Linked DNA regions of Homo sapiens: region 2 is linked to region 1. The links come from fine-mapping of genetic effects on gene expression. Tissue or cell type: whole blood. Region 1 holds a variant in brackets; the other region holds the start of a gene. All regions are shown on one strand. Distances are between the middles of the regions. Region 1 overlaps RNF182 (ring finger protein 182). Region 2 holds the start of RNF182 (ring finger protein 182).

Region 1 (5,389 bases):
CCCCACAGCTATGGGGCAACAAGCAAGACTATCAGAGCCACTCAGAGAAAGGTAACCCAGAAACCTGGCATGCTGGCAAAAAGGTAGGAATTTCCTACCAGTCAGGCTTCTGGCCTGTCTGTGAAAACTGGTTAAATGAATGGTCAAAATCACTTGCATTATGAGAGCTTTTAGCCTTGGTGTGTAATAACTAGGTAGGACATATACTTTTAGGGACAGCTAATGGCAGCTATGAGGGAGGAATACTCTGCTCTTGGCACACTGGGATCAGAGAAGCATGTTCTTGACCACCTGGAAGGTACGGAAATGTCCCCACCCCAACTGAGAGATAAGACTCCCATAGGGGATGGGCTAATTCTCTCTTTTTGGGGATCAAGGATCCAGTATAAAAATGGGGCTCTTAATTTTGGAGGATCTGTTTTGCCTTCCAACCATGCCTGCTTATTAGGCCCTAGAAACTGCATGCTTTCCTGACCCTGTTCCTTGAAGGTCTTCTGCCTGAAGCCAGTAATCCAGTTAAGAAACTTAAAACTGGCAAATAAAAAATATTATAACTATTAGATCTTCTTCCATCTCTCCGTGTATTTATATGTGTTGTGTGTGTGATGTTTACATATGAAAGAGCTCTGGTTAACTGACTTAAAGAAAAATAAGTGGCTGGGCACAATGGCTCACACCTGTAATCTCAGCACTTTGGAAGGCTGAGGTGGGCAGATCACCTGAGGCCAGGTGTTCAAGACCAGCCTGGCCAACATGGTGACACCCCGTCTCTACTAAATATACAAAAGTTAGCCAGGTGTGGTGGCACACGACTGTAGTCCCAGCTACTCAGGAGGCTGAGGCAGGAGAATCACTTGAACCCAAGAGCCAGAGATTGCAGTGAGCTGAGATTGCATCACTGCACTCCAGCCTAGGTGACAGAACAAGACTCTATCTCAAAAAAAATAAAGGGGGAGTGCAGGTGTGGTGGCTCATGCCTGTAATCTCAGCACTTTGGGAAGCCAAGGCAGGCAGATTACCTGAGATCAGGAGTTCAAGACCAGCCTGGCCAACATGGTGAAGCCCCATCTCTACTAAAAATACAAAAATTAGCCATGTGTGGTGGTGTGTGCCTGTAATCCCAGGTACTCGGGAGGTTGAGGCACGAGAATTGTTGAACCCGGGAGATGGAGGTTGCAGGGAGCCAAGATTGTGTTATCACACTCCAACGTGGGAGACAGAGCAGGACTCTGTCAAAAAAAAAAAAAAAAAAAGTACCTGTTTTGTCAGAAAAATAAAAACTTTAATGTCATTTAGTTCACATGACTTTTAGACATTTAGTCTAAATTAGGCAAGCTGAATACTGTCCTTGGTAAATGTGTTAAGGTCATAAACTGCTTCTATGACATTTTTTATAATTATTTGACTTGTCTGCTTTACAGCGAATTCCAGGTAAGGCCTTGAGATGTATGGAATTAGCCTGGTCCCCTGACTAGGCTGGGAAGGTCAGACTTTACAGCTCTGTCCTTGTCTTGGGCTCTACAATCTGATACAAGGTTAAAATCGCTCACTCACCAAGTTTTTCACCAAAAATAAAAGTTGCTACGAGTTAACATTGTAACATATGTAATTGAGACTATTGGAGCAAGGTATGTAAGAAAAGTAGAATGTATTTTTTGTAAAAGCTTATAAAAAGACATGGGAATGTGAGAAGTTTCTTGCCTAGTTCAGAGGGCTGAATAATTATTTTAAGTTAGATAGAATAAAGCTAAAAATTTGAGCAAATGGTGGAAAGTTTGTGAAAAATTAATCTTGTAAAAGAAATTCTGTGTGTGAACAAATTGACTAAAATTAAGAGGGTATTGTTTAGTTTTTCCATAAATTGAATACTGGAAAAATGCACAACAGGGTTTTCTTAGAGCACTGATCTACTCTTCAGCAAAATTTTTTTTAAGTTTTAAAACTTTTATAAGTTTAACGTTGGCACTGTATGTTTACCTATTCGTTGGTACAATTTACATCAAGTTTTATACTTACCCATTTTTGTGAAGATATCGTACACAAAGATACATATTCAATAACTGAGAAACAAGTAAAACTTCTGATCTATACTTTCAGGTTTGTTCGATCATGATAACTTCTGATAAGAATCATCGTCATATCAGTTTTTCACCTCTTCCAGAAGGACATCATCATTTTATCTAAGAGTTCACTCTGGGTTTTACTGCAGAACACAGATTCCCTCAATTGCTTTTTTCTTGCAAGTGTCTTTTTCCGTAATTTTTTCTTATAACCAGCCTTTCTCGTCAACCAAAGGCCAGAATGAAGTCAAAGAAACCTATAGATGACAGCTTTCACAGTCTTTCTCTTGCCTTTTTGTGTACAAATGAATGTTAGAGATCTGACTGGCAGCTTCAGGACACTTGGAAGCAAGGGGGCCACTCTATTAAAGATTACCGCAGGATGCCCACATGTCAGGTTTCTGACAGATGTGGTAAGTCTGGGAGCAGAGGAAACAACTGGTGTCTGAATATGACTAAAACGTCCAGTGGACAATGCAGAAATAAGAGAGGCATTCTTGACACACAGTTTTGGTAGGCTGAAGATGCCAAAATATTCAGGGGCTATAAGATTCCTGAAGCTGCTCTCACTGCACTGGCAAAGGCAGTGGCAGCCATCTTGCCATCAACAAAAAATTTAAAGGGTTA[T/C]AAAAGGTTTGTGAAAATCTTACTTTATGGTCAAACTGATTAGGAGTGAGTAGATTTTGTCCGTATGATTTTATTAAAAATTGGATTTGACATTAATAGTACATTAATGCAAAAGTGAAATTTGGCTTTCTCTTTTGAACAAGATTTTCATGTAATATTAAAAGATAAAAGATTTTTGTTTGTCTTTTGAATAAACTAAAGAAAAAAAAAGAAAGGAGAGAAAAGAGACATTATTTGGAAAGCTAACTCTTCCCTCTATCAATGGGTAAAGGTTTTTGCCTTTTTAAAATCTTTAAGTTGTCATTTTGGCTAAATAAATGACTTACAGTGACCTGAGATTCTATTTTATAACATAAAGTGTTTTACACCTTTGCTATTTAACAAACATTCCCAAATCAAACTAGGACTTAAGTAGGACCTAAAGACTTAATAAGTCTTTCCTGACTTGATAATCCTTTTAGATATTAGGTCCCCTGAAGTCCAATAATGGCATATTTGACTTATTTGACATACTAAAATCATACAGGAAGTACTGTCAAATACAAAATGGCATCTGACATTTTTTGGGTTATTTAAATGTGTTATTGGTATGTGTTCCAAAATTATGCAAAACTACTATAATTCTGGTATAACTTAGTATATGTTATCATTAATAGTTATAATTGTTATCTTAAATTATTGTGTGCCACAAGGGGCCAAATTTCCTTGTCAATTGTGTCTCTGACTGTAGCTGCCCTAAGACTTTTTGTCATCTACAAGCAATTGTCTTGTTTTGATTCTCTTCAAAAGGCAGTTTATAATCAGTTATAGGACTCTGACAAGTACTCTTATAAAGCAGGACTTTCACAGCTTTGAAATGTATGCCATTAAAACGAAGAAAAACTTCCAAGACTCTTGGAAAACTAATGTATTCATAAATATTGAGAAAAACAGGAATTGCATAGACAACTAATAGAAGACCAAAATAATCTATTCATGACTTTTTGCCTTTGTTTTGTTTTTCAGAGTCAAGAAAACTTTTATTTTGAGCTATTTACAGCTTTCAACAATTGAGTATAATATACTACTGTAAACAAAATTTAGAGCACATTTCTTTCTCTCTACCTGATTTCTCCCAAATTTGGAAACTATTTGTGAGTATTTTTAACTTATGGTGATATAGCTATTTACATAAGTCCAGTAAGAATTTTTCCTTTGTGACAAGACACAATTGGAGACACTGGTTATTTTACCAAGGCTTTGACTGGAATGACTGACATGCTTTCAAATGTAAACAAACTGGTTTAAGGAATCAAAATTCATTTATAGAGCCAATTAAAGCCCCTAAGAAAACTGACCTCATATCTTGAGCCTTGTACAGGGCTCCTGACCTGTAGCAAGTAAAGAATGTCACTTTCTGACAGGCCCAGGAGCCCCAAATATCTTGGGACATCCAGAGGAGAGAAACTTATCCAACTCATATTTGCAGACACACATAAATCCATGACTGGTCTCAAGGCTTTAAAAAGTCTAATCTAAGATTAGATTATAGAACACAGTTCCATCAAAGCCAAAAGAGCCTATATGGCAAATAATTATTCTTGCTTCACTTTATACAAATAACCAGGCCACATACAATAAGACTAAAATTTATTTTGCCAACAAATCAGTCCACATACAATAAGACTAAAATTTATTTTGCCAACAAATCAGTCCTACCATGGTTTGTTTAAATAAAAATAGGGACTGGAGAGAGAAAAATTATGTTTCACAAACTATGGTACACCTGTTACCAGACTCTAGTCTCATCCATTGTTTTTGAGTTTTTTCTGCAATTTAGACTGACCCTGCTTATTCCTGTGAACCAACCAGTGATCTCTGGCTGCTGCTCAAAAGAAACATGAGGCATGATTAACATAAAAATCTGAATCACTATTCTAATTCTGGACACATAATGAAATCAGCTAGCGACCCCATATCAGCTTGGTTCCCACAATTGCCCAGTTCATAGAAAGCTCTTATTTAATTTTAGACAATTTTACTGATTTCGCTTTACAGTTGTAGAATATATTGCTGTTGTACTCTTTGTATATAATTCAGGATAAGCTTACTCAATGTTTTCTTAAATACTTACTAATCTTCCAGGTATCATCTTTCATCAGGACTCAGAGTTTTGAATGACCTTCACCATACTAACACTTTATGACTAAACTCCTCCCAACTCTAAATACAAGAGACCCTAAAAATTGTTAGGCAGGAATATCATTGCCCCTGTTCAGCCTGAAGAAGCTACAGAAGATAAATTTCTATCCCTCTGCAACCTTCAGGATTAAGGGTCCCCTTATAAATGGGAGGGGGGAAATGTGTCAGAGGCATTCAAACCAGAGTGACTCCATCTTGAATTAGGGCTGGGTAAAATGAGGCTGAGACCTACTGTGCTGGATTCCCAGGAGGCTAGACATTTTTAGTCATAGGATATTTACAGTTAAGGGAAGAAGTTAATAATGTTTACTGAACAGACCCAGGACTTAACAAACCCAGGAAATAACAGACCCAGGAAATGTCCTGATGTCCTGATATCTTATGAACAAAAGCATTCTTAGTTTAAGAATAAGTTTTGCAGTCAGGTACGGTGGCTCATGCCTGTAATCCCAACACTTTGGGAGGCCAAGGCGGGTGGATCACCTGAGGTCAGGGGTTTGAGACCAGCCTGTCCAACATGG
Region 2 (5,389 bases), 24 kb after region 1:
GGCTTTATTTAGGCTGCCTATGCAGGCTTATATGGTTACAAACAACTGACTTTCAATGGCACAAACATAATGTTAATCCTAACTTAAACAGGAACATTTGTGGCTTTTTTTTGTCTTTGGATATGCTTCATAAACTGAATTACAGAATTCTTTCAGGTAGAATACAGCTATGGTGACAATTATCAGGCCATATTTTACAGCTTATACCAAAAATTAGGACCAATTTTACGTCATAAAATTAAAACCCGTAAGCTAAAATGCAGGAAAAGACTCCTACTCCCGTGAATCAGCAAGAGTGATGACTAGTATTTTACACCTGGGGATATGCAATGCTGTTGCCTGCTTCCACCAGGTGGCTAAACCATGGACAGAAAACACAATTGCTGTTTGCATTTTCTAAGGACATATTGCAGATATCATAGTATTTTTTCTTTCATTATCTGGTTATGCACATACCTCAGAACACTAGTAACACATATAAACATGCCAGATTATTGTTTTCCACTGCACTGACACAAGCTTCATTTCATGCTTCGGAGCTCTTATTAATAAGCCACTACAACCAAGCAGTGCATGCAATACATGATTGTTGATTTCTGTATACCGACTTTATTTTTTGGCAGAAAATGATGCAGCTCTGAAGAAGCCAAACTATATTGAATGTTGTGCCCGTGTGAGCTAGCAGCAAAGGCAAAGCACCGGTCCTTACTGTGCTAAATTCACCATGGATATCTCCGTTCTTCAGCACTCAGATTAAGGGCCACAACATAAATGTTTAGGCTAGAACTCACAGTGTGGGTTTCATCTGGCAGAAAGCACGGACCAAGTCCTTGAACTTGAATACTGGTTTTGCTAACAAAGATCTGAATAAAGCTGTTCTGTTGGTCCCTCAGGAAAAAAAAAAAAACACACACACACACACAAACACACAAAATAATTTATTTTTAGTACAAAACATAAAACTACATTCTCTGTCTATATAATGTGCCTAGGCTTCAATATCCTATTTGCTGTTCATGCTTAAGTGAGAAAATACTTTTCTCTCCCGTTTATCTTCTCAAAACAGATCTACTTCGTTTTAATCAATGTACGATTTTATTACCGTCATGAAAGAGTATTTAGCAGAGCATCTGTGAATCTTCCACAGGTAAAATTCAGTTTAAAAACAAGCCCAATTGTGAAATAACCTGCAAACTGTTAATTGCAACTTCAATCCTTTAGTTTCCAATACAATCTTCTAATGAAGTGGCATTACTTGAAGTTGCTGGCAAATATGAACAGACTGAGAAACCTAGTAATCAGCAGGCTAACAGGTGTTGAAATCCCAAAAGAGGGAAGAGGAATATTAAATAATCACTCTTTGCCTGACACCTCAAGTAGCTGTAATATGCAGAATTCCAATCAACTTAACTGCAATTCAAAATGATCAGTGGTACTGTTTTCATTAATTACTCTCTAGCAAAAATATAATTTCTTGCATTCCATATAGTTCTTTAAATGACCTATTCCAACTTATACATTATTTTACTAAGTTGGATATACAATTTTATATGTTAGATTATTTTCCAGTTATCAATATGACATCTCATATTGTTTAAATATGATTTAAAACAAATCTTATTAACATATATACAATTTCCTTCTGAATTGATCAACTGTATTTCTGAAAATGTATCTGTTTTCTTTCATATTACTACATGTAAGATGATGTCTAAGTACCAAAAAAAAAAGTCTTCACAGTCACAATTTAAATCTGTGCTTCGCGTCTGCAACAAACTATCACGAAATGATTGCAAGGGTTGGGGCCACTGAGAAAGGTACCTATAACCTATCCAGTGCCCCAGTGGCAACCGCATCGTGGTCCTCATCATCCCACTCATAAACACCGATGCAAACACCGCCCAGCTACCTGCCTCCAGAGGTGCTTTGGATTGCCTCCCTACACATAAAAACAAAAGGCACTTTCCAGTTCCTTACAGCATGAACACAATACCTTCTAGAAACAAAAGCAATGACCTCGGTGCCAAGTATCTCCTTGACAAAGTATCGGTACTGCTCTACATTCTGGTCTTGCTAGTCGGGGAAAGCCGGGCTACCCTTACCATCCAGTTATAGGTGCAACTGCACCTTCCAAAGAAAAAAAGGTCTTTCGATTCAATATCCAAACGAACTTCAGAAGCCTCCTCAAAATGCTTCAGCCACAGGCATAAAAATGGGCTCACTTTTCAGAGATTCGTAAAAATCTTTCGCTTGTCCCTCTTACTACCCTCCCAACCCCTCCTCAAAGAGAATGCCATGAAACATGAAAGTCCAAAGGTAAATACTTTCATACCTTTTTTTCCCCCAAAAGCCTCGATGGCACGCCAAGAAGGAAAATAACAACAACAACAGAGGGGCAGCTCCCTGAGCAGGTGCAGCCCGCGCGGGCGCTCCGCAGCCGCCCTCCGCCGCACAGCCCCTCAAGTTGGTGCCAGGACGGCGGCCCCCGTGGTGCCCGGAGGGAGACTCCGCGCGCGGGCCCCGGCGCCGCTCGGCCCGAAGTTTGCCGCCCCCTCTCCTCGGCGCGCTTGGGCGGCCCGGCGCCGTCCAGGACTGCGGGGCTGGCTGCTGCCCCAGCGTTGGGGAGGCCCGGCGTCCCGCCGACCCCTCCCCGGCCGCGGGCGCGATCGCCTTACCTGGCCGGCGGCGGCCCAGGGCCCGGGAGCCGCTCCGGCTGCGGCGGCGCCTGGGAGGGGAGGGAGGTTCCCGTGGAGGAGGAGCTCGCGCGAGGAGCTAGCGGGCTGGCGGGCGGGCGGCTTTGTCTCTACGGCGCTGAGCCGCCGACCCTGCGTCACCATGGCAACCGCCGGGGCCCCCCCGGCCCTTCCCCTCAGCAGTCCGGGTATTCGGAGAGGACAAGGACCCCCGATGGGCCGCCACCACCACAAACACGCCCCTCTCTCAGTCTCCCTCACAAACCGCCTGTTTCTCCCCAGCGAGAGGGGAAGGCTAAAGCGGAGCGAGCCCAGGGCCAAGTGGTATTCGCATCCTAGTAGGCACTCCTTTGCTTCCCCACACTGGACATTCCAACTCCCGTCGCACCACCATCCCCCCCACAGACACCCTCCACCACTACCACCACCACACCTTTCTCCTGTGGAGCTGTACCCTCAAAATGGAAATTCACTTAAGGGAGGAGAAAGAGCAATGCAAAGTGATAAAGTGTTGAGCAACTGGTACTCGGTTCTCCTGTTGCAACTGCCGCAGCATGCACGGAGCTGCCAAGGGACGCCGTGCCGCCTCCTCCCTCTCCCCCTCCTCCTCCTCTCTCTTTTAGCAAGCTTTGCCTCTGCTGGATGTGGTCTCACTCCACCCAACCCGTGTATCTGTCTTGTTGAGGGCTCCCGTAGGAGAGAGGGGAAAGGGGGCTTTATCTCTGATGTAAACACTGGATACACTTGTAACCTCAGAAGCTGAAACACAACTTTCAGGCTGCAGTATGGATCTCAGCTGCTGCCACACTGCGCAGCTACTGGCTGTGACCGCTAAGCATCTACCATGAGCCCTGAGTGACTCTGTGCCAAGGACTGGTCACGTACTGCAGGCCATGGCACTCAGGAGCAGAGAAAAGAAAGCTAACTTTTTCCTCTCCTGAGGAAATTCTTAGAGAGGGAGAGAAAAGTACCAGCAGACCCTTGGTCATGCTTCCTCTAAAGGACGAACTAGAGGGCAGCCTCCATGGGGGGAGTGAGTCATCCCTCCATACTGTTTTCTTGAAAGATCCGTTGCTGAATCCAAAAGCTACAGTGTCTTTCTTCAAACCCTGGGGAACATGACATTTATTTTTTGGCATTTGTGAATCACCAAAGGAATGTCAATGATTTATAATAAAATCCACGGTAGCTGATGTTTTCTGGGTTTACTACTTGAGAAGCCACAAAGCAGAACAATGTTATTGCCATTTGAAGGTACACCTATATTAACTAATGAAAAGATAAGATCTATTTCATGGTGGAAAAGGAAAACAGTTTGTTCCTCGGAGAGACTGGCCACTTTCTTGTAATGGGAATATTCTGAATGAAGTCAATAATATTCCAGATGAAGTCAAAAGACAAGGTCTTTTTGGCAGGCCATTAAGCATTTGGCAATACCTGCCAGAATTCAAAATGCACATACATTTCTCCCAGCTATCTCAATTCTAGAGATCTGTCATACAGAAACACACAAATGTGTAATGATAGATATAAAAGGATATGCATTGCAGAAGTTTTGTAATAGTAAATGTTTGAAACAACTTATATGCCCATCAATAGTGATATGGTTAAATAATGTGGCACTTCATACCATGTAATACTATGCATCCATTAATAAGAATAAAATATATAAAATTCATAGATATTGATTTCTTATTAAATGGAAAAGGGGGGCTCAGAACCGTATGTGTGGGTGATCCCATTCTGTACAAAAAAACTGGATATATAGGAACAGAACAAAAACATAGGGATAAAGGTCTATAAGAATGCCTACCTAATTGCTAGAAGTGGTAACCTGTTAACTACAAAAAAAATTGAAGGGACAGTTACCTCTTACGATGTACAATTTAGTACACATATTTGGTTTGTTTGGCTTTTTCAAATGAGCATTTATTAGTAATTTATCAATGAAGAAGCAAAAACAAAAAGCTTTAATAAATGTTTGTTGACCTGCATGCACATTACTGCCTGATCAAAAACTGAATACAGAACAGGGAGGGACCATTGACTTGGCCATCCCTGCCCTCAGCTGAAGGCTTGGAAAAGTCCACGTTGTGTCCCCACTTAGAGCATTGCTTAGTGACCTGGTCCTGCGTTATTCTGTGAGACATTCTTCCAGACATTCATTTTTCCAAAAGAGGTTTAGCTTTATCTTAAGGTCTGCTTCCATTCTGCCTCTTGGAGAAAATTAAAAGACTTGTCAGGAAACCATCTTAAAATGTGCCACCTTACTTACCAGGGGATATCATTTGAATAGGTTAAGTGGCAGCTTTTAGTCTGTTTAGCTAAACTGAAACTGAAGATACTAAAGCTTAAAAATTAATGTGTGGATACATGACTAGTCTTTCTTATTCTCACCATTTTTGAAATGAGGTTAAAATAATGAATTTGCTTTCCTAAAAAGATCTAGAGCTGCACAGTCTAATTCAGTAACTGCTAGCCACATATGAATTAGCTACTGAATTGGTATGTTCAGTAAGTGCAAAATACACACCAGATTTCAAAGACTTGGAACAATAACTTTAAAAAAATAATATCTTATTAATAATGTTTATATTGGTTACATGTTAAAATATATTTTGAATTTATTGAGTTAAATAAAAGATGTTATTAAAATCATTAACTTTTGTTCCTTTCCACTTTTTTAACATGATTAT

What was found. PIP is the estimated chance that this variant, and not a neighbour inherited with it, causes the effect.
Region 2: it holds the start of RNF182, and the variant in region 1 is fine-mapped to the expression of RNF182 in whole blood (TOPMed, PIP above 0.99).

What each region holds. Positions count from the first base shown.
Region 1 is chr6:13,946,363-13,951,751 of GRCh38, reverse strand. All of the region lies in intron 1 of RNF182 (ring finger protein 182), which reads right to left. It also overlaps the pseudogene MRPL35P1. Among named protein-coding and RNA genes, the nearest start is that of RNF182, 24 kb to the right of the region's middle. The variant T/C (reference allele first, on the strand shown) is at 2,688.
Region 2 is chr6:13,922,310-13,927,698 of GRCh38, reverse strand. It overlaps RNF182 (ring finger protein 182), which reads right to left and starts at 2,747. Exons shown (of 3, transcript NM_152737.4): 1 at 2,676-2,747. RefSeq lists an enhancer at 3,352-3,852.